3 linked regions of the Homo sapiens genome follow. The protein of the gene in region 3 purifies or fractionates together with the protein of the main gene of each other region. This does not show direct contact. Each region holds a gene or a part of one and is shown on either strand. Other genes may lie near its edges.

Evidence for each region.
Region 1: the proteins of LIN7C (region 3) and ARHGEF26 purify together in Homo sapiens (affinity purification with mass spectrometry; 5 studies listed by BioGRID and IntAct, with this or other methods). This does not show direct contact.
Region 2: the proteins of LIN7C (region 3) and ABLIM1 purify together in Homo sapiens (affinity purification with mass spectrometry; 4 studies listed by BioGRID and IntAct, with this or other methods). This does not show direct contact.

The regions. Positions count from the first base shown.
Region 1 is NC_000003.12:154,187,362-154,194,389, forward strand, and holds part of ARHGEF26 (rho guanine nucleotide exchange factor 26), read left to right. Parts: intron 1-323; coding exon 324-476; intron 477-3,927; coding exon 3,928-4,057; intron 4,058-7,028. UniProt on the Homo sapiens protein: Activates RhoG GTPase by promoting the exchange of GDP by GTP. Required for the formation of membrane ruffles during macropinocytosis. Required for the formation of cup-like structures during trans-endothelial migration of leukocytes.
Region 2 is NC_000010.11:114,438,276-114,445,303, forward strand, and holds part of ABLIM1 (actin-binding LIM protein 1), read right to left. Parts: intron 5,860-7,028; coding exon 5,754-5,859; intron 3,512-5,753; coding exon 3,447-3,511; intron 2,803-3,446; coding exon 2,742-2,802; intron 1,815-2,741; coding exon 1,807-1,814; intron 976-1,806; coding exon 901-975; intron 1-900. UniProt on the Homo sapiens protein: May act as scaffold protein. May play a role in the development of the retina. Has been suggested to play a role in axon guidance.
Region 3 is NC_000011.10:27,496,747-27,503,774, reverse strand, and holds part of LIN7C (protein lin-7 homolog C), read left to right. Parts: intron 1-1,854; coding exon 1,855-1,973; intron 1,974-2,208; coding exon 2,209-2,280; intron 2,281-4,206; coding exon 4,207-4,416; intron 4,417-4,970; coding exon 4,971-5,126; 3' UTR 5,127-7,028. UniProt on the Homo sapiens protein: Plays a role in establishing and maintaining the asymmetric distribution of channels and receptors at the plasma membrane of polarized cells.

The sequences.
Region 1 (7,028 bases), on a different chromosome or scaffold from region 3:
ACTTGAAGCAATAACTTGATTTTTTTTTTTTTTTTTTTGGTTTTGTCTTGTCTTGAACTCCTGGCCTCAAGTGATCTTCCTGCCTCAGCCTCCCAAAGTGCTGAGATTATAGGCGTGAGCCACAATGCTCATCCTCAAGGAGGTGTTAATATGATAGATTTAAACTTAGATAAAATTTTTATAGATTTTAAAAATATTTTTTAGTTGGTACTGTGTACTGTTGAATTTTCAAACCCCGTGTAATAACATTACATGAGGCTAATCTGTTATCTGTTAGAGTGTATGAAAGAAGTGTTAATTTTTTTTTCCCTTTGGTTTTTCAGGTTCTTTATAGAGTTGGAAGCAAGACATCAGAATAATATCTTCATAGATGACATAAGTGACATTGTGGAAAAACACACAGCATCCACATTTGACCCATATGTGAAATACTGCACAAATGAAGTCTACCAACAACGAACACTACAAAAATTGTTGTAAGCAATGTCGAATGCTACAGTTTTAATCATCTAACCTAGTTTTAATTAGGCTACATTGACTGAAATTAATTGATCTTTTGAATTATATTTAGAAATGCCTCCTGATAGGCTATTTCCCAGAGGAGAAATGTTTAAGAGCATTACTTTTAGGGTGAGGGTGTTTAAGTAGAAAAATCTAGTGTGTAGAGAATTTTCTCTCTTACGAAATTATAGCTTGTTATTGATGTCCTTGTTTAGTGTTTCGTTGTTTTTAATTGTTGCAGGAAACAGAGGTGGTCCTCACTCTAAACCCGCAGTTTTCTAAGCTTTTTACTGGCAATTAAGTGGTTTTCCTGAGGCTTAGAGGGGATTCTTGAGTTGATTGAGCTAAAAGCTAAGATTCAGAGTTTTCTCTACTATTCTGATCTCCCTCCATTCAATTGACAACGATAATAAATTGTTCATAAAAATTGCTGATTATTCCCCCCACTTGGGTAGTTAGAGTTGAAGAGAGGAGGGAAGTTCTGAAGGAAAGCAGTAGAAAAAAGTAATGTTCTTAAAGATTTCAGTTATGCAGCAAAAGAGTTAAGCATTAGATTTCCTGCCACATCTTTTCTTTTTGTCCTTTTTAGGTTACTGAGAGTTTTGATGTGATGCATATGCCATCTGTGTCCTTAAAAGAGTCACCAATTGTTCAGTAATGCCTATATGTATTTTAAAGAGTCCTGTTTATCACAAGTAGCTGTTTTACAGCACAGTTGTGCACTGCTGTAAACCCAGTTTGGGAGCTTAATGGCTGTTATCGTTCTCACCCCCTCCTGTGAGTTGTGGCATTTATGACCACGGCATGGAGCTTCGGTCAACTTCTGTGCAATATGTGAGACCCCTATGGAGGAGTAGGGGTTGAGGATGACTAACTTATGGCTGCTTGGAGAAATAGTCAAAGCCTCTAAGCTGATGAGAAGGGCTGATGATGGCCCCCTTTTTCCTCCACATCTTCATGACATTTTCATATAGCCAGGGTGGAAAACACACAGCTGCTAACCCCAATGAGATTTTTAGTATAAAGCAGGGTTTGTTCGCACAATTGACATTTTGGACTGGATAAGTCTTTGTGGTGGGCTGTCCTATGCATTTTAAGATGCTTAAGGGCATCCCTGGCTTCCATCTGCTAGATGCCAAAAATCTCCCCAGACATTGCAGAAGGTCCCCTGAGGGTAAAACCACACCCATCACTTCCTCACTCCACCACGCCCTGGTGGGAACCGCTGCTATAGGAACAGAGGTTCTCTGTAACTGTTAGAGAATGCAAGTTCATGTCTGAAAACAAAGCCTTGAATTAGAGATAAATTTGGGTTTCATTTTGTTTTGCAGGATTTAAAAAATGTCACTAGGTACTGCTATACATCATGTGACTCTTAAAGGTTTTATCTAAATTAGCTTAATGATAACATCATCAGCACTTTCACGTGGCAATTAGTAGTGTTTTCAGGGGATTTGTTGCAGTTGATGTGATTTTTTTTTTTTTTTTTTTTTGAGATGGAGTCTCACTCTGTCACCCAGGCTGGAGTGCAGTGGCGCAATCTTGGGTCACTGCAACTTCTGCATCCCAGGTTCAAGCGATTCTCCTGCCTCAGCCTCCCGTGTAGCTGGGACTACAAGTGCATGCCACCACACCCAGTTAATTTTTTGTATTTTTAGTAGAGACTGGGTTTCACCGTATTAGCCAGGATGGTCTTGATCTCCTGACCTCGTGATCCACCTGTCTCTGCCTCCCAAAGTGCTGGGATTACACGCGTAAGCCACTGCGCCCAGCCCGCAGTTTATGTGAATTTAAGGTTAGAACAGTGGCTTTCAATTCTAGCTGCATGTTAGAAATGCCTTGGGGCCTGAAAATGAGCAAATGTACACTGTCCAGAGTCCATCCCAGACTATTTAATCAGAACCTTTGGAAGGTGAGGGAGGGGACTGGGACCTGAGTTATTTAAATATACAACTAATTTAGAGGTTTTTGTTTTTTTTTTTTAACTTTCTAAAAATCTTGTCAAAGCTATCAGTAAAAGGAAACTTAAAACTTCTCAATTAGAGAAAATGGAAATGAATTGTTTCTGTATAATTTCTTTTCATTTGCTATTCTGGCATTCTCCCCCTCCCTGCTTTTAGTAGCAGCCTTGAACAAGATTATTTAATTTTCAAAATAACATTTTTTTTAAAAAAAATGACTGCTATTGTCACTATCCTGCTTCCTTCTCCCTTCATGGGAGTACAATATCCATCTACCTCCTACCCTCCTTGCCTTGGAAAGTGGCAGTGGAACTCTACAGAGCTCCTCATGGGATGAAGTGAGGTAAGAGAGTGAGAAATGGGGGGACAAGAGTGTCAGATTTAACATTAGAAAACTTGGGTTTGAGGCCAGGCACAGTGGCTCACGCCTGTAATCCCACCACTTTGGGAGGCCGAGGCAGGTGGATTACTTGAGGCCAGGAGTTCGAGACTACCCTGGCCAACATGAAACCTTTTCTCTACTAAAGATACAAAAATTAGCTGGGCGTCATGGCACACACCTGTAATCCCAGTTACTTGTGAGGCTGAGGCATAGAATTGCTTGAACCTGGGAGGCAGAGGCTGCAGTGAGCCGAGATTGTGCCATTGCACTCCAGCCTAGGTGATAGAGCAAGACTCCATCTCAAAACAAACAAACAAACAAACAAACCTGGGTTTGACTTCTGTCTTTGGCAGTTACTAAGTCATATTTACTTGGTGAGGTAGGGACCTTTCTGCATTCCATTTTCTTACTGGAATCCCTATCTGGCCTTCCTTAAAAGTTACGTAGGTGGTTCCACATGAAAGAATGTATGTCACAGTATCTCGCTAAGTTTCATTAAAATGTTATAGCAGCATTAATACTTTTCTTGCATTAACAGGAGAAAAAGAGGAATATTTCGACTGATGTGATGAAAAGGTTTTCTGTCTCAGAAAGAGGATCTTTGTGGCCTAAAGCCTCTGAAGTCCAGTCTAACTGTTAATTTCTTATGCCATTGTCTAGGGCTGGAGAAGTGGCTTAAAACATATTATTTATGATCTTATTAATGATATATGTTTATAGATGATCGGATATAAAAGACCTAGTCTGTATACTGATTTATGACCCATATATTCACCATTATGATACCACAGCTTCTTCATTTGCTTACCTTCCACTTGTATAAATTTCTAGCTCCTACATGTTTTGCCTTATTGTTAATACTGTTATGTGAAATCCACATCTTATTATATTCAGCCTTGAATATAAAAGGCAGACAAGCCATTCGTATTTGCCAGTGTAATTATGTGCTTATGATATTTTCATACAGTTTAAAATAGTTGATGCTATATGGATTTATCACAGTATTTTGTAATACATTTTTACTTGCTGCTTAATTTGAGGAGGAAATATTTTGAAGTTTCTCTTTTCTTTGTTTTCCCTCAGAGCTACCAATCCATCCTTTAAGGAAGTATTGTCAAGGATTGAGTCCCATGAAGACTGTAGGAACTTACCCATGATCTCTTTTCTCATTCTCCCCATGCAGAGGGTGACCCGCCTTCCCCTGCTGATGGATGTAAGACATGACGGTGGCTTTTTCCTCTGTGGATAGCTGTGCTTCTCTAAATCTGATTTAGAAAATTATTATTATTCCACTTAAATTGATGCATATTTAAAGGTCTAAAAATCCCCCAATTAAGTGAGAAGGTGTTGTTTGTTCAGAAAGTCTCACCTGTATCTGATATCTCTGGAAATTATCTTTCATTTAGGCTTCTATGGTCATTCTGAAGAAATTGGATCTCATCACCCACTTACTCAGCATTTTTTGAAATAGGAAGAGTTGTGGCTTCTTTATGTCAGGAGGCCTGGATTCCAATTCTAGCTAAGCCATTAGGCATGTGACCTTGAGCAACTCAGTCTCTTTGGGCCTAAGATTCCTCAGACTGATCACTGAGATCCCTTCATCTATAATGTTCCAAGGTGCCCTGGGCCTTCCATTTCATACAGGAATGAGAGTCTCTTCAGCATGACAAGGCATAGTACTGCCTGTATTATGCATTGTGCGAAGTGAGTGAGGAAAGCCCAGCTTCCTTCTTGTGTTAGGCAGCATTCATGAGGAAAGCAAGTGTTTTTGACTTTGAATCACGGCAAGACATGACTGGGAAAAGTGAGTAGAGTCTGCCTAGTAGTACGTGCAGCTGGAAAGACAGGTAGGCTATGGGCAGGAGAGCCTGCCACTGGCTGCACTGGAGCTGCTGGGGCAGCAAAAGAGAAAAGTGGGGTGGCTCGACACAGGTGCCATTCTAGCAGTGGATCACAGAGTGTCTTTTTGATCTAATTAGAAAATATTTTGTTATGATTTTCCTACTTTAAAATTGGATCATAATGTTGATATAAGGTCAACTTTTTACATACCTGATTTTGACTAATCAAAACAAAGTAAAATATATATTAAAAATTATGATTAAGGTTACAAAGTAAATTTCACATTCTGTATCCCATTGTAAATTCTAAAATACATTCTTTAAAAATGCTGAAATTTTGAAATGTGTAAAAGCATGGAATCATGAGCATTTAGCTGACTGCTGCAGTTTTGGAGACGTTTTGTCAGGTATTTCAGGATTCATAGCACCTTGTGCTCCTCAAGTTTACTTCGATCTACTGCCTTTACACCTTCTCCACCCATCACCTGTAATTCAGGAACTTCCCCCCTGTGTACATATTGGGAAGCTTGCAGTTTTGAACATTTCACTTTCTGATTTTTTTTTGAGATCAGTATTTATCATGTTTAAAGATAGAATGTGGCTAAGTTATCAGAATCGAATTTTTGCTTAAGAAGGAAACTTTGGTCCATATAAGGAAGTATTATTTCAAACATGACTATTTTTTTAAGCAAGAAGTGAATGCCTTGTAAATACAACATTTCTTGTAATATTAGACTTTTGAATTTTCAGGGTTTTCTTCTTCTGAAAATGCATTTTATTCCTCTTTGAGAATTGAAATAAAAGAACAAAAATAAATAAAATGCATTTTAAACATGTTTTCCAGATTTTATATATGCTGTGATGGCCAAGCCTTTTATATCCTCTTTAAATTTGAGAAAATTACTTGTATGGAATGGGACTCTAAAATCTAACACATTATGTTATACAGTGTTGGAGATTCATGCCATGATTGCTCAGTAGGCTTTAAACTTTTTTTAAGCCACAGACCCCCCCTTGAGATTCTGAGTAAAGCTATAGCTTTTCTTCCCAGAGAATATGTGTATGCACAAAATTTTACATAAAATATCAATATATGGAATCCAGCTAAGGATGCCTGCTCTCAGGGACATAAACCAGTATTTTTCATGCTGCTTTCATACCCATTAGTGGGCCATAAAACTGATTTTTGAATTATGAGCATATGTACGTTGCTCATAAAGTGGTTAAATATTGTTTCATAAAATCCTGGTTCATTTATGTGTGCATGTGTGCTGGTTGCAGTGTAAAAGTATTTCTTACAGTGAGTCATAGTCAAAAAATATAAGAACCTCCACAGATGGTGCACTCTGTGTTTCTCACATAGCAGATAGTTAAAAATCTTGATGCCTGACTTTCAGATGGCTTGGCTTGGTGCTTCTGTACATTTAAGGGACCAGTGACTTGCTAGTAGCCAACTACTTTCTACCTCTGCCTGATGCCTGTTGCTCTAATCTGTTTCTCATGTGTGGAAATCTGGCCATTTAGGCAGAATGTAAATGTATTTAAAATAGTGTCTCTTCAATTTTACCTCATTTGGAAATTCAGTTAAGCTTGTTCATTAAAATAAACACTTTCAGTAATTAAAGTGGTTCCCTGGGCTTTGAATGTGTGTGTATAGCTTTAAAGTTATATGTAATTAAATTTACCGTGAATTGACCCTGTTTGACCTGATTTTCCTATCACAAATGAAATTTCTCAGTATAAATATATCAACAGAAAACCTAGCAGGCTTTTTTTCCTTTGCTGGTTTTTTTGGGTTTTTTTTTGACTGTTTTTTCTTTGAGATGCTGTCACCCAGGAGTGCAATGGTGCGATCTCGGCTCGCTGCAACCTCCACCTCCCAGGCTCAAGTGACCCTCCCACCTTAGCCTCCTGAGTAGCTGGGACCACAGGTGCACACCACCATGCCTGGCTAATTTTCTTTTAGTATTTTTGTAGAGATGGGGTTTTTCCATATTGCCCTGGCTCCTGGACTCAAGTATTCTGCCTGCCTTGGCTTTCCAAAGTGCTGGGATTACAGACATGAGCCACTGTGCCTGGCTGTTCTTTTTATTCAAAATGTATCATCTATAAATATAATTGCCTCTAATAATAATGATTATAATGGTGATAATTAAAGTAACTCTTATTTATTGAGGGCATACCCTATGCCAGGCACTAATAAAGAACTTTACATAAATTATCATTAACACTTCTAACAACCTTGTGATGTAGCTGGCATCACCCCAGTTTTACAGATGAGGAAAGAGAGGCTTATAAAGATAGAGTTAGTGACTTGCTCAAGATTTGATAACTAGTAAGGGC
Region 2 (7,028 bases), on a different chromosome or scaffold from region 3:
TTTGTAGACAGGGCTTGCTCTGTTGCCCAGGCTGGATGCAGTGGTGTGATCACAGCTCACTGTAGCCTCAACCTATCAGGCCCAGGTGACCCTCCTATCTTACCCTCCCGAGTAGCTGGGACTATAGGCACATGTCGTCATGCCAAGCAATTTTTTTTAAGTTTTAGTAGAGATGGGATTTTGCCATGTTGCTCAGGCTGGTCTTAAATTCCTGAACTCAAGCCATCTACCCGCCTTGGCCTTCCAAAGTGCTTGGATTACAGGCGTAAGCCACTGTGCCCAGCCAATGTGTTACCTTTTATAGGATGCTGTTATAGGGCAGGGTGCATTTGTGCTGGGGTTAACAATCTTGTCCCATGACTAGCTCATGAATCTATGGGGCCAGGCAGGCCCAGAAGCAGTGCTCTGGCAACTGCCATATTGAAATAAGCCCTGGTTATGGTCACCAGGGAGCATGAGCCCTTGGACAACTCTGAAGGTACAGGGTGCTCTGGAGCTAGGGTGGCCAGTCACCCCAGTGTACCCAGGACTGAGGTTCTTGAAATGCAGGGCTTTCAATGGTGAAACAGGGTTGCCTCACCTACATGGTGAGTCTGCAGCCACTCCACTCAGCACCGGATATGCTCTGTAATGCACATGGCAGAGGCCAAGGGAATACCTTGGTCATAGGCAGAGAGGGACTGGCACCTCACTGTAAACACACAGCATCATGCCCAGTAAGGGTTTAACCTGCTGACCTGATGTGGGCAAAACAGCAGAATGGCAAGGTGCATATTCATGACATGGCTCACCTGAACACACCAGCCTACAACACTTTGAGAATGATGAAAAGATAGAACATCAAATCTGTTTAGGGTTACGCCATTCCCATATGAGAGGAAAAAGAACAGCTGCACTTGCCTTTGGTTCCAACATGTTGGGCATAGACACTCCTCGGTCCATTCTCATTGCAGGCATGTGGCCATCTGGGAGTGTCTGCAACAGAAATGCCAGTTCCAGGTGAGGCATGAAATAGTCTAGGAAACTGAAGGGAGTACTCTTGGGCTCCCAATTCCCTGTTGGGTCTCCAATCCTAACCACTATTTTATTTGTGTCATCTAAATGACCATGTATTTTTCAAAATGAGATCCTTGCTGTATAGGAACAGGAATACAGCTCTTTTGCAATCAAGTTGGGGAGAGATCTTGGCTTGATGGTTATGGACAAATTCCTGAATTAGGCTCCATGAATGAAAGCATATAGTACATTTAAAAGATGCCCAAGTCTATTATTGTTAGTTTCTTATCTTTAATCATGATTTTCTATGCATTTTTCTTCTTTTCTTATTCTCCATCACATTTCTTTCTTTCTTTTTTTAACAAGATTGAGGTTCTAGTGAGAAAGGAATGTCATGAGGGCAAACTGCTCTCTCCTATTGGCTAAGACATCAGTGTCTTTTCATTTGAGAACGCGCAGGAAAAGGGTGGCCTAAAGTACTGAGAGATTATAATTAAAAGAAGAAAAACTGTATATGAGCAGACCCTTGATGCTGGTCCACTTCCACCCCAGAGAGGACTCTCCAAGGCCAAAGCAAGAGAGACCCCCTACACCTGGCCTGGTTCATGCAGTGTCCCCAAGGCCTGCAGGGACAGCTTGACCCAGGCACCAGGCATGTCTGCTCTTCACGGCTATAGAGTAATGACTAGAGAGATCAACCACAACAAGCATCTTCTCAACAGAAACTGTTGCCTTGGAGCCAGCAGTCTGGGTTGGAACATGGCTGTTCTATCGGTGTGGCCAATTCAAGAAAGACAAAGTGTTCCATACCTGGTAATCTGAAAAGGAAAGGAAAAGAAAATATCATAAGGGAAAGACCATGGAAAAGCAAGGAACCATTCACAGACTATATTATATTGAAATTCCCAACATATTCGCCCTATAAACCATGTTCTTTTTCTGCTCCCAGACTCTGCACATGTTATCCCATCAGCCTCCCTGAAGCCAAGAAATGCCTGGTCCAGTGTTAGTTAACAGTTAAAACATTTTCCCCTGGAAGCTTTCGCTGACAACCTAAAGGTACTTACTGCTTCCTTCTCTGCATCTCTGATCCCAATGTTCATCACACAGACCTTCTTTCTGCCATATGCATTTTGAGGGCAGGGGCCATGTCTCACTTATTGTTGTACCTCCAGTTACTTTTTTTTTTTTTAAGAGACAGTCTTGCTCCGTCACCCAGGCTGGAGTGCAGTGGCATGAACATAGCTCACTGCAGCCTTGAACTCCTGGGCTTAAGCAATTCTCCTGCCTCAGCCTCCCAAGTAGCTGGGACTACAGGCATGTGCCACCAGCTAATTATTATAATTTGTTGTTGTTGTTTTTGTTGTTGTTGGTAGAGACAGGCCCACTTTGTTGCCCAACCTAGTCTAGAACTCCTGGCTTCAAGTAATCCTTCCGCCTCAGCCTCCCAAAGTGTTGGGATTGCAGGCATGAGCCACCATGCCTGGCCTCTAGGTATCTGATAGAGTGCTCAGCACATAGTATGAGCAATGAATAAATTCTCACAAACTCACTTCTTACAGTTTGATTTCATTAGATATTCTTTGAAATTTTGTAAATAATTGCCCTATTAGCTCACAGAAGACAGATGTGATCCTACTCTAAGGATACAATACAGCATGAACACAGCCAGTATACTTGACTCTCATGAACCTCAGCCTCGAGGGAAGACGTGGCCATGCTCAGCCTGGCCATGGGAGCCTCACCTCGCACTCCCCCGCTGACATCCCCATAGCTGTTATACTGAGCGAAGTCGGTAGAAACAGGCTGAAATGAGGAAAAACAATTATTAGGAAATCTCCATAGTGATCGTTTTGGAGTCAGGTGAAAAGGAAGAAAGAGTTTACAAAATCCTAGGAATTCTTCCCAAGCTAAATGTCAGACCTTCATTTTTTTTTTCCCTATGATTCTTCTACTGCTATGCCATCTCTTTGTCTTTTTTAGTGTACTAATGCCACCACTCAGCAGGCTCTTGGTAAGCAGGGATCTCTTGCTGATAAATAAAAATGCATTGTCCTACATAGTTACATAATTGTATTTGTTCCATCTTTTGTGAGGAGGATGGTTATAACACACATTCTTATATCTTTTTACAGCAAAGATAATGGTTCAAGTAATTACTTTTTGTTTCATTGTAAAAAATATTTGCCATACAGTTTTGCAATTTAGTTTTCCCATAATCATACACAAGCCATTCTTTTATCTAAAGTTAATTTCTTCTTCTCTCAATAGAAACATTTTATTTTGCCTGTAACTCAAATTAATTTACTAGGCAACCAGGGAGGTTAAAATTTTCATTATGTTCCAACACTGAGATCAAGAGTCAGACGTATTCAGGCAATGTGTCAATACTTCAACCAGGGCCGAGGTGGGAGTAAAGGCAGAAACAATGAATCGGGGAGAAATCTTACCCGGTGAAGCCCATTTCTTCCATAGCCAGGGAGAGATGCAGTTTTAGATGATGGAATATGTGAAGCTGAGTAAGAAAAAAGTAAAAAACCAATTGTTAGGAAATCAGAAGGTCCAATCCTTTAATGAAATTGGCAGTATCTTCTACCTCACAGGATAGAAATACCAAAAAAATTCAAATCATATTGGGCTCAAATGTTCAAAAATATGCCATCATATTTGCAAGGAGTGGGTGGACAGTGATATGACTGAGGAGGGAAGGGAAAGTCAAGTCCACGCGGTTGAGTGGGGGCTGAAGCTGGCTGTGCTTCCTATAGCTCTGGCATGGAGCTAAGTGTTCAGCATGCTTTATTTCTTTGAATCTTCAATATAACCCTAATAACACTATGATTATTAGTTCCATATTACAGAAGGAGAAATAGGGGCTAAGAAAAATATCCTGCCAACAGTTACTAAGCTTCTAAACAGCTGAGCAAGGATGTAAATCAGGGATATCTGAATACATTAGCCCATGCCCCAGTTGATAAGGCAGCAGTAACTGAACTGGAAGCCAACCCTGTATGTTATCAAGATCTACCAGCCATCTACAGCTGGCCTCCTGGGAGGCCTGATACAGGGTATCTGTCAATGATATGGAAGCCTGATAAGCTGCTGGGCTTGAGAGGGAGCAGCCCTGGGCTTGAATTCTGGTTCTGCAACTTAATACCTCTGTATCTCCGGACATGGTGTTTAATCTTTCTGAAGTCCTCATTTCTTCATCTATGCAGGTACAATGTTATACATTCTTATAGAGCAGAATCTCAGAATTCCAAGGAACTCTAAAGATTTGTAAACCACCGAATCCAAGATCAATGCCAGTGAGGCATCTATGAAGGGTAGCGGGAATTCCAGGTAAGGGTGTGGGCTCCGGGGTTATAATATGTGGACTTCTAAATCCTAGTCTTGCTAGTTATTGGCGTATCACGCTGGGTATGTTAACTCAATTTCTATACCAGCCTCCTGATTTCTAAAATAGAGATGAAAATGCTGCAGTTGCTAATAACAACCACATCTACTTCACTGGCATGTTGTGAACATTAAATAAAATGTTTAGCAAAAATGCTTGCATGGAGTGAACATTAAATGCATTTTTTTTTTTTGAGACAGAGTCTCACTCTCACCCAGGCTGGAGTGCAGTGGCGCAATCTTGGCTCAATGTAAGCTCAGCTTTCTGGGTTCACGCCATTCTCCTGCCTCAGCCTCCCGAGTAGCCGGGACTGCAGGAGCCCGCCACCACACCTGGCTGATTTTTGTATTTTTTAGTAGAGACGGGGTTTCACTGTGTTAGCCAGGATGGTCTCGATCTCCTGACCTTGTGATCTGCCCGCCTTGGTCTCCCCACTAAATGCATTTTTAAAGGAACTCTTAGAGGAGAAAATTATGCTCTAGCTCAGAATATGAGAGAAGAAATCTTGTGGTTTAAGAGAGAATTGGCTTATGACAAATAGATACAGGGGAAAATACACTGATAGGCTATTTCAGCCCAGTGTATAAGTCATCTTCTTCAAAAGTATCAAAAACACTGTTCATCCTCAGTTCTTGTATTGAAGATTTTTTTTCTTTTTTTTTTTGAGATGGAGTTTCACTCTTGTCGCCCAGGCTGGAGTGCAATGGTGTGATCTCAGCTCACTGCAACCTCCACCTCCCAGGTTCAAGTGATTCTCCTGCCTCAGCCTCCCGAGTAGCTGGGATTACAGGAGCCCACCACCACGCCTGGCTAATGTCTGTATTTTTAGTATAGATGGGGTTTCGCCACGTTGACCAGGCTGGTCTCAAACTCCTGACCTCAGGTGATCCGCCTGCCTTGGCCTCCCAAAGTGCTGGGATTACAGGCATGAGCCACCGCACCCGGCCTCTATTGAAGATATTAATGTAAAATCATAATGCTTAGAAAATGTCTTATTCATGTTATCTAAAAAAAAAAAAAAAAAAAAAGAAGAAGAAGAAAAGCATCATGTTTTTTAGAGGATTTCCTTTTGCTGCTTCCCTTGGAGATGAGTGTTCTAGAAGACAAACCTAGTATATGGGGATTGGCCTTCATGGATTTTGAGAACCTCCAAGGGTTCACCCATTTCCAGAAGAAAGGAAACACACATTTATGGAAGACCCATGACATGCTTATGAGCTCATTTGACATGGAGTGGGTTTCCCACACTTCCTTTCCCGTGGAATACTCTGTAGGTTCCACCACAAGTGAACAGTCAAGGCAGGTGCCTTACAAGCAGGTGGCTGGCTCTCGAATCAGGGAAGGTTGGGGGTTTGCTGCTTACCTGAGTTGATGGGAGAATCGTAGCGACTGGCTAACAGAGATGACCTTTCCCGGCTCTCTTTCTCCATCTCTTCTTTCAAGATCAACTGTCCCAGGCCTGAGTTAAGCTATTCACAGAAAAAAGGAAAAAAAAAAAAAAAAGAAAGCAAAGCTTGCAATTACTTTCATGGAGCTGCAGTTTCTTTGTAGCAGATCCCACAAGAAGTTTCTCTTGCTGGAGGGCCTGAATGCATGTGGCCCCAGAGCCTGGTAGTTCCTGAAGAGGTAGGTCAAGTTTGGGACCCTAAACCCTCTTAGCCCTTTCAGTTTCAAAGCTCCATTTCCCTAAGTCAGGCTCTGTGTTAGAAGAACGTTTTCCTTCCTCTGCTTTCCCTAAAGAGCCAGGAGACCTCAGAAGGCATGTGTGAGTGTGTGTGGATTTTTGATGTGGGAAGGGAAGACTGGGGCTGGTATCCTTTAAAAAGAAATTGCCTTGATTTGTTTAAAAACAAGAAATAAAGGTAATACATGCTAATTTTACAGATTTTGGAAAATCTAGAAGAAAAGAAGAGTAACCCATAATATGTCACTCAGAAATAACACTATCTTTTGATTTATATCTATCTAGTATTTTTGTATACACACATATAAAACTGAGATCATACTATAAATGCAACTTTGTATCCTTTGACTAATATCACGTGCATTTCCTATATGCTTAGAAAACATCATTTGAAAGGATTCAGCAGCCTCTTGACTGATAACAGACTGTCCTTCTGGGCTGCTGCAGGCCCTTGCTACAGGAAGGAGGGTATGAAGAGGACCCCTTCATGGTGGCCATTCCTTTCATTCCTTTTCTCCTGGCCCACATCCTGGGAAAAGACTTGGAGAAATGTTCAATCCCACAGTCATTCCTTCAGCAGAACTGCATGAGGGAAGGAAGGTGTGGCACTACCTGGGTGGATACCACCTTGCTCTGCCTGGCCCTCCAGCAGCCTTTCAACACATGCACTGCACACATGCCCCCATGTGGTCTCTCTTTCCTTCCCACAACAACCCAAACCTTCCACACCCCTCTGACCTCCAGCACCAATGCCATCTCCTCTAGAGCCCAGCAGGTATTCTGCCATATTCTAGTTACTATTAACAGACACCTGTCTTGCCTTGCCTGCCAGATTTCAAGCCCCTTGAAGACTGGGACCACCTCTTGCCTATCTAGATGGTTTATACATAGTAGTCATTCAAAAAATATAGATCTTATGTAACTAGCATTGAAGACAGCAGCAAGGTAGTTTAA
Region 3 (7,028 bases):
CTTGGGAAGCTGAGGTGGGTGGATCATGAAGTCAGGAGTTTGAGGCCAGCCTGACCAACAGGGTGAAACCCTGTCTCTACTAAAAATACAAAAATTAGCCGAGCATGGTGGTGGACTCCTGTAATCCCAGCTACTCAGGAGGCTGAGGCAGGAGACTTGCTTGAACCTGGGAGGCAGAGGTTGCAGTGAGTGGAGATTGCGCCACTGCACTCCAGCCTGGGCAACAGAGTGAGACTCCATCTCAAATAAATAAATAAATATCTTTCTTTACTACATTTATTCATAGTTTTCTATCTGCAAACACGAAGAAGGCCATACTAACTCTATAAAGAAAAATTTCCAGTCCTTGAGTGTAACGAAATCAGGAACTTCTACTTAAGTCAAAAGGAAGCAAAGCAATAATAGAATACTGGGCATTGTAGTACCAGGGGTACAAAAACAGTATACCAAAACAGTTTTTGGAAAAATAAAAGTAGAGATAGTTAACAGTGTTATAGCTGACTTCCTGAATCTTCTAAAATGTCTCAATTCATAAAACACTTATCCTCACACTTCTCAGTGAGAATTCCCTAATGTGCTTCATACATTTGTATAAATGTATACAACCTCTTAGGGTTTTTTTTGTTTGTTTGTTTGTTTTTGTTTTGTTTGGTTTTTTGTAGATGGAGTTTCACTCTTGTCACCCAGGCTGGAGTGCAGTGGCACAATCTCAGCTCACTGCAACCTCCACCTCCTGGGATCAAGCGCTTCTCCTGCCTCGGCCTCCCAAGTAGCTGGGATTACAGGCACCCGCCACCATGCCTGGCTAATTTTTGTATTTTTTTTAGTAGAGTTGGGGTTTCACCATGTTGGCCAGGCTGGTCTTGAACTCTTGACCTCAGGTGATCCACCCGCCTCGGCCTCCCAAAGTGCTGGGATTACAGGCATAAGCCACTATTCCCAGCCAATATTTCTTATGATTAATTGGTACCAATGTAACATAACACTTTTGCTTGCTAAGCCCTTTTTTATGTATTTTGTGGTTCAGTTGTTAACTGAACTCATAACTCTTCCTCATAACCCTTATATGGAAGGTACTGTTATTTCCATTGTACAGTGAAAGAAACTGAGACATAAGGACATCATGTAACTTGCCCAAGGTCACACAGGTGGTATTGAGACCAGATTGATAAAGCTAATTGTTTTTATTTTTCTTTTTTGTAAACATAAGTGTTGGAGCTTGTTTGAATTAACAGTGTTAATTAAGTTGAAAAAAAATCAGTTTATTTCATTTGTACTGCTTGTTTTTTGCATTTTTATGGTTGTTTTAAATGTGTCCCTGCCACTAACTGCATCTGCTCTCGAGTGGTTATCTACCTATGTATCATGTTTCTTTCGAGGAATGACCAGTGATTTTACTAGCTTATAGTGCCTTGTACTGTTCAGTGCTTTGGTTACTAATAATAATTAGGTAAATTTTTATTGACTAGTTTCTGACAATATTGCTAGCTTTTCTGAAGCAGTACAATGTTCATGTATCGGTCACATTTGAGTCACAGTCCTTTCCGATGACATTTGGTATTTTGTGTTCAATTTGCCTGTGTTTCTCCAAGGTCTTATTTTATGCTTCTGTAATCTCAGTAGTTTTTCCTATCTACTGTAAAATTTAGTGTTCTTACATTTTACATTCTCACCCTCCATGTGTGTACACACACACAGTCTCCTTCCCACCAAATGTGCAAATTCAATGCTTTTTTTCCCCTCGATTGTCTGTATATTATTTGCCCTTGAGGAATGAATCCTAACTGCCCCACTGTTACATAGGCATTGAGAAAACCCTTGGAGAAAATTATCTGTGTGTGTGTTTAACTCTAGATATTTGTAGAGCAATTGAATTATTGGAAAAACTACAAAGGAGTGGAGAAGTACCACCACAGAAACTTCAGGCTTTGCAAAGAGTCCTTCAAAGTGAATTCTGCAATGCTGTGAGAGAGGTGAGTAAACATCATTAAAATTTACAAAAATTTGAGTTAATTAGGTCAGATAATACTCTAAATTTGGGTTCAACATTTCTTAAGAAAAACTTTAGAAAACATTAAAACCAGTCCCTCTCATTTTTGGAATTTCTGATAAAACCATTTTATAAAGATGCATAACTTTGCCTGAAATTTTAACTTCACAGAGAACTCAAGCATGGTATATTCTGAGATATAACTTTGGCTTTTACAGGTATATGAACATGTCTATGAGACTGTGGACATCAGTAGCAGTCCTGAAGTGAGAGCGAACGCTACTGCAAAGGTAAATTTTTTTGTTTTCCAAAAGTAAGAATTCTTCATAAATTAGAAGTTTAAAATATGGAGTTATTAAATTCATAATAAACTTACTTTGAAGACTAACATGTATCTTTCAAGCTACACCAAATTTCTCAAGTACTAAGAAATAAGACATTTGTTTCTATTGCCTTTACATAAATGCTGCATGATAAATAGCTTACATAAGCTATTTTATCATGCAGTTTAGATAATGCAATAGAAATGTACTTGCATACAATATGTATCATGCAATATATAATTGTGTTGTATATGTTATATATATGATACTATATAATATTCATTATACAAAATCTAATCAGAATTTTAAGATATGAATTACTATCCTCATCTTATTGATGAGGAAGCATGAGGTGATTTGCCGCAAACCACACAAATAGCATATGATAGAGCTGGGGTACTTCCCCGAGTTGATTTTTGCTTTCTTCTTTACATTATCTGCATTTCTGTGCCATTGTTTTCCTCAAATAATTTAGGTATTGACCTCACTATTCATGATAGGGGGTTTGAACAGGGTAATATCAGCAGTCGGTGACTTAAATTAATCATCAGCAGATAGTTTTTTATGGATAGTTACTGGCTCACAAAAGGAAATGGTGGATTCTTTGTTGAATACAAATACTTAAACATGTGGATATAGTTTATCAGTGTAGAAAAGACCAGAGAAACATGGTTTTAATTGCTGAGTTGTGTGAGTTTGATAGCCTACTGAATTTCTGAGCCTTAATTCCATTATCTGAAAAATGAGGCCTTTTTCAGAGCTTCGAAGATAACGGGTATTCAGTAAATCTTGATTTCTTCAAAGATAACGGGTGTTCAGTAAATCTTGATTTCTTTCCTCCTCCCCATTTTTGTGATCCATCACAAAAAAATGGTACTAGATAATTACCCTTTAAAGCAAAGTGAAACAAAATCTCAACTTTATAATTAGTTTGGATTAGTCTAAAGTTGAGCTTTAAAGAAGATACGGCTCTGTTTCATCTTCTGTGGGGATTTTTAGTTGTGTCTAGTTAACTAAAGCAACAAAACATTCAGATTGGCTATATGTACCTCTCTTTTTCTCAATATTGAGTTATTTCTTGACATCTTAGATATTTAGTATATAGTACAAATAGTACAGAAGCCAAAATGATTACATATAAGGGCAACTCCATGTTGATTATATAGGTAGGTTGTGTCCTGCACAAAGGCTCCTGAAGGAGTTGGGAGATCCAGATCTAAAGCCCAGGGCTGCTAGCATGCTGGGGAAGGGGTTTTCCTCCTTACCATGTACAATATCAGTCTGCCCAGTAAGTCTGCTTGCCAAGCCCTGCGCATACAGGACTGCACAAAAGAGTGGGCACTGAATGGGCTAGGAATGACCTAAAAAATCATAACAAAAAATCGTAACATTTCCTGCATAACTCGAAATTATTCATTTGTCGTCTCTAAAATACCTTCTGTTTAGCTTACCTTCTCAGAATCACCAGTGAATTTGTGAGCATTCAGACGTCAAAAATACGTGCTCAAAAGTAGTTTTTAAAAAGAGACAAAAGAGGCCAGGCGCAGTGGCTCACGCCTGTAATCCCAGCACTTTGGGAGGCCAAGGCGGGCGGATCACGAGGTCAGGAGATCGAGACCATCCTGGCTAATGTGGTGAAACCCCATCTCTACTAAAAAAAAATACAAAAAAATTAGCCGGGCGTGGTGGCAGGCGCCTGTAGTCTCAGCTACTCAGGAGGCTGAGGCAGGAGAATGGCGTGAAGCCAGGAGGTGGAGCTTGCAGTGAGCCAAGATCACGCCACTGCACTCCAGCCTGTGCGACAGAGCGAGACTCCATCTCGGGGGGAAACAAAAGATGAAAGAACTGAAGTAAATAAAAGTCATATTTTTAATATGTAAAACTTTCTTTCAGGCTACTGTTGCTGCATTTGCTGCCAGTGAAGGACATTCTCATCCTCGAGTTGTTGAGCTACCAAAAACAGAAGAGGGCCTTGGATTCAATATTATGGGAGGCAAAGAACAAAACTCTCCAATCTATATATCCCGAATAATTCCAGGTGGAATTGCTGATAGACATGGGGGCCTCAAACGTGGAGATCAACTCCTCTCTGTTAATGGAGTGGTAAGGATGAATTTTATTTCTATTTGTAGTGATCTGTTGTGACCACCTGGGGGCGTATTTGAGTAATAGGAGAAACCTAAGAAACTTGTGGTTTAGAAATGCCTTGAGGGAATCCTAGGCAGTACTATTAATACAGTGATCCTTTTTTTTAAGCACTATAAGTGTATTTTGCAGTGTAAATTAGCAGTGCTTAATGTCATTTTTATGACATAAGCTCTTTATTAAAGGCAATACATTAAATTAGAAGTCTACCCTCATTTTACTCTTATAAAATGCCAATTGCTTGATCTACTGAAATAATAAGGCATATAGATTAATATGCTAATTATTTGGAACTTAAAAGCCAGCTTTTAGACTATAAACAGAATATGATGTAAGAGAGGATTTCATATAGATTAAAATGGTAAGGCAGGATTATTTCTTAGTTTTGTAATGTTGGAATAATATAACATTAAAACTTTTCTTCATTATATATATTGTAAACATTTTTGCATTTTGAGTTACTTTCAAAACTTAGATATTAGTGTATGGTTGGTTGTTTTTTTTTCCCCTAGAGTGTTGAAGGAGAACATCATGAAAAAGCTGTAGAACTGCTGAAAGCCGCACAAGGAAAGGTTAAATTAGTGGTACGATACACACCCAAAGTCTTAGAAGAAATGGAGTCGCGCTTTGAAAAAATGAGATCAGCAAAACGCAGGCAACAGACCTAATACATTTCAAAACTTGATATTTCATTTTGCGTTTTAGCTAGAGAAGTTTTCCTTGTGACTTACTAATGGCTGCAATGCCAATGATTGTAAGAAAACAAACAAATTTATCATGAAATTCTCCTTGTCATTTTATAAATGCCTATTTTAACATCATTTATGGTTCCAGAGATGCATACACTTTTTTCTGACAAGAAAAAGTAAAAGGTGATGAGGGCAATTCTGTCCTACTGTTTTTACAGGCCTTTTTCAAATGCAGATTTTGTCATAAAGTTGTTATAGATTTTTTAAAATGCTTTTTTAATATTAAAATGTACTTTTACATTCTTAATCTTTTTTTAGAAAGGAAAAGTTTTCTTCATTTAGCTGCTGATTTAAAAGTAAAGTTCTCCAATTCTTTTTTTTTGCTTACTCTATTTTTTTTAACCTGTGAAATTTCTTTACAGTTTTCCAAGAAATTAAGCATAACAGTCTCATCTACGGCAGTTCATTACACTGTCAATGTTAACATCATTGCTGCATTTTGTACTTTGAACACACACATAATATATATAACCAGTGGTAAATCATGACTCAGTACAGTGCAAGTTTTTTCACTTTTACTTAAACATAATATATAATGGATATTCATTTATACTGATTTATGAAAGTAAGTTTTTAAACACTGAAACAATCATTGCTAAAATACATATTCTTAATATTTGAGCATTGAGGCAAGAGGATGTAATTGATAGCATTACTTATTACATCCCTATTTATGTTCAACCGTACATCAAATTATAAATGCAAAACAGGTTCAGATTTCATCTTTTGTGATTTCTTTTAAATACTATTCATTTTTATTTAAATGCACAGTATTTCCCCTATATTTTAGTCCTTCCATTCCTAGAGACAAACCAGTTATTTGGTGGTGGGAAGTAGCTGAAGCAAAGAAGGAAAAGTAATACCTTTAACCTCACTAGCTTCAAGAGTAGACATTCTTACTAGCTCAATTTAAATAATTGATTTTAAATAGGAAGAAAAGAGGATATATTTAAGATACATAGAAATTATGATGTGAAGTATTCATGAGAATCTGTAGATTCCATCAAAATAAGTAGGAACTCATACTAAAATTGTTGGATTTAAAGAGGCAACTTTTGTTTATGATTCAAATATGGGAATTTGAGAAATATTTCATTTGTCCACTGGATGTCACTATTTTACTAAAAGGCAGCTATTAGTGTGGGACTGTGACTGAGGTCTTAAAGACTGAAAGAGTTGGGGTTCATTTTCTGTTACAACTTACAGGAACATTTGTACTTTAAGAAAAATTTAAGTGACAAATGTTAGAAGATGATGGATTGAAAAATATAAGTAATTTGGCATATTGACCCTATATAAAAAAGTGGGCATTTTGTAACATTCCTTCAGGAAGAATAGAATTGTATGCTTTTTTCTGCATGTTTGTGATCACTGTGAGTCTCAGATGATTATTCCAGTTTTCAATGATTTTTCAAAATAAAAGTCAATCAGCATTGTTATTTATCATTAAGGTATTGAACACTGGATTGCATGGTTGAATGTGTCTTTAATCCACTACAAAATGTGCTTGTTATTGATAGGATCATGTTGTTAAATTGTAAATTTTCAAAATTAATTGATGTTTTAAAAATGTTGAGACCAAAGTAGTATAGAAGTATGGACTTAATTTAATTGTAAAATTATTAGAGGTATTTGTTGTAGAGCTTTATATATTAAAGAGAGGTATTGGTGCATATAAAAACAGTAATATTATTGTTATGCTTGTATTCTTGCATTTCAGGGTAAGTAAACCCTGAAGAAATCTTATTTTAGTATAGCTACAGCTGCAGTAGCTTTTAAGTATGTATCAACATTTCATTATAAATTATAGCTTCCTGGTTC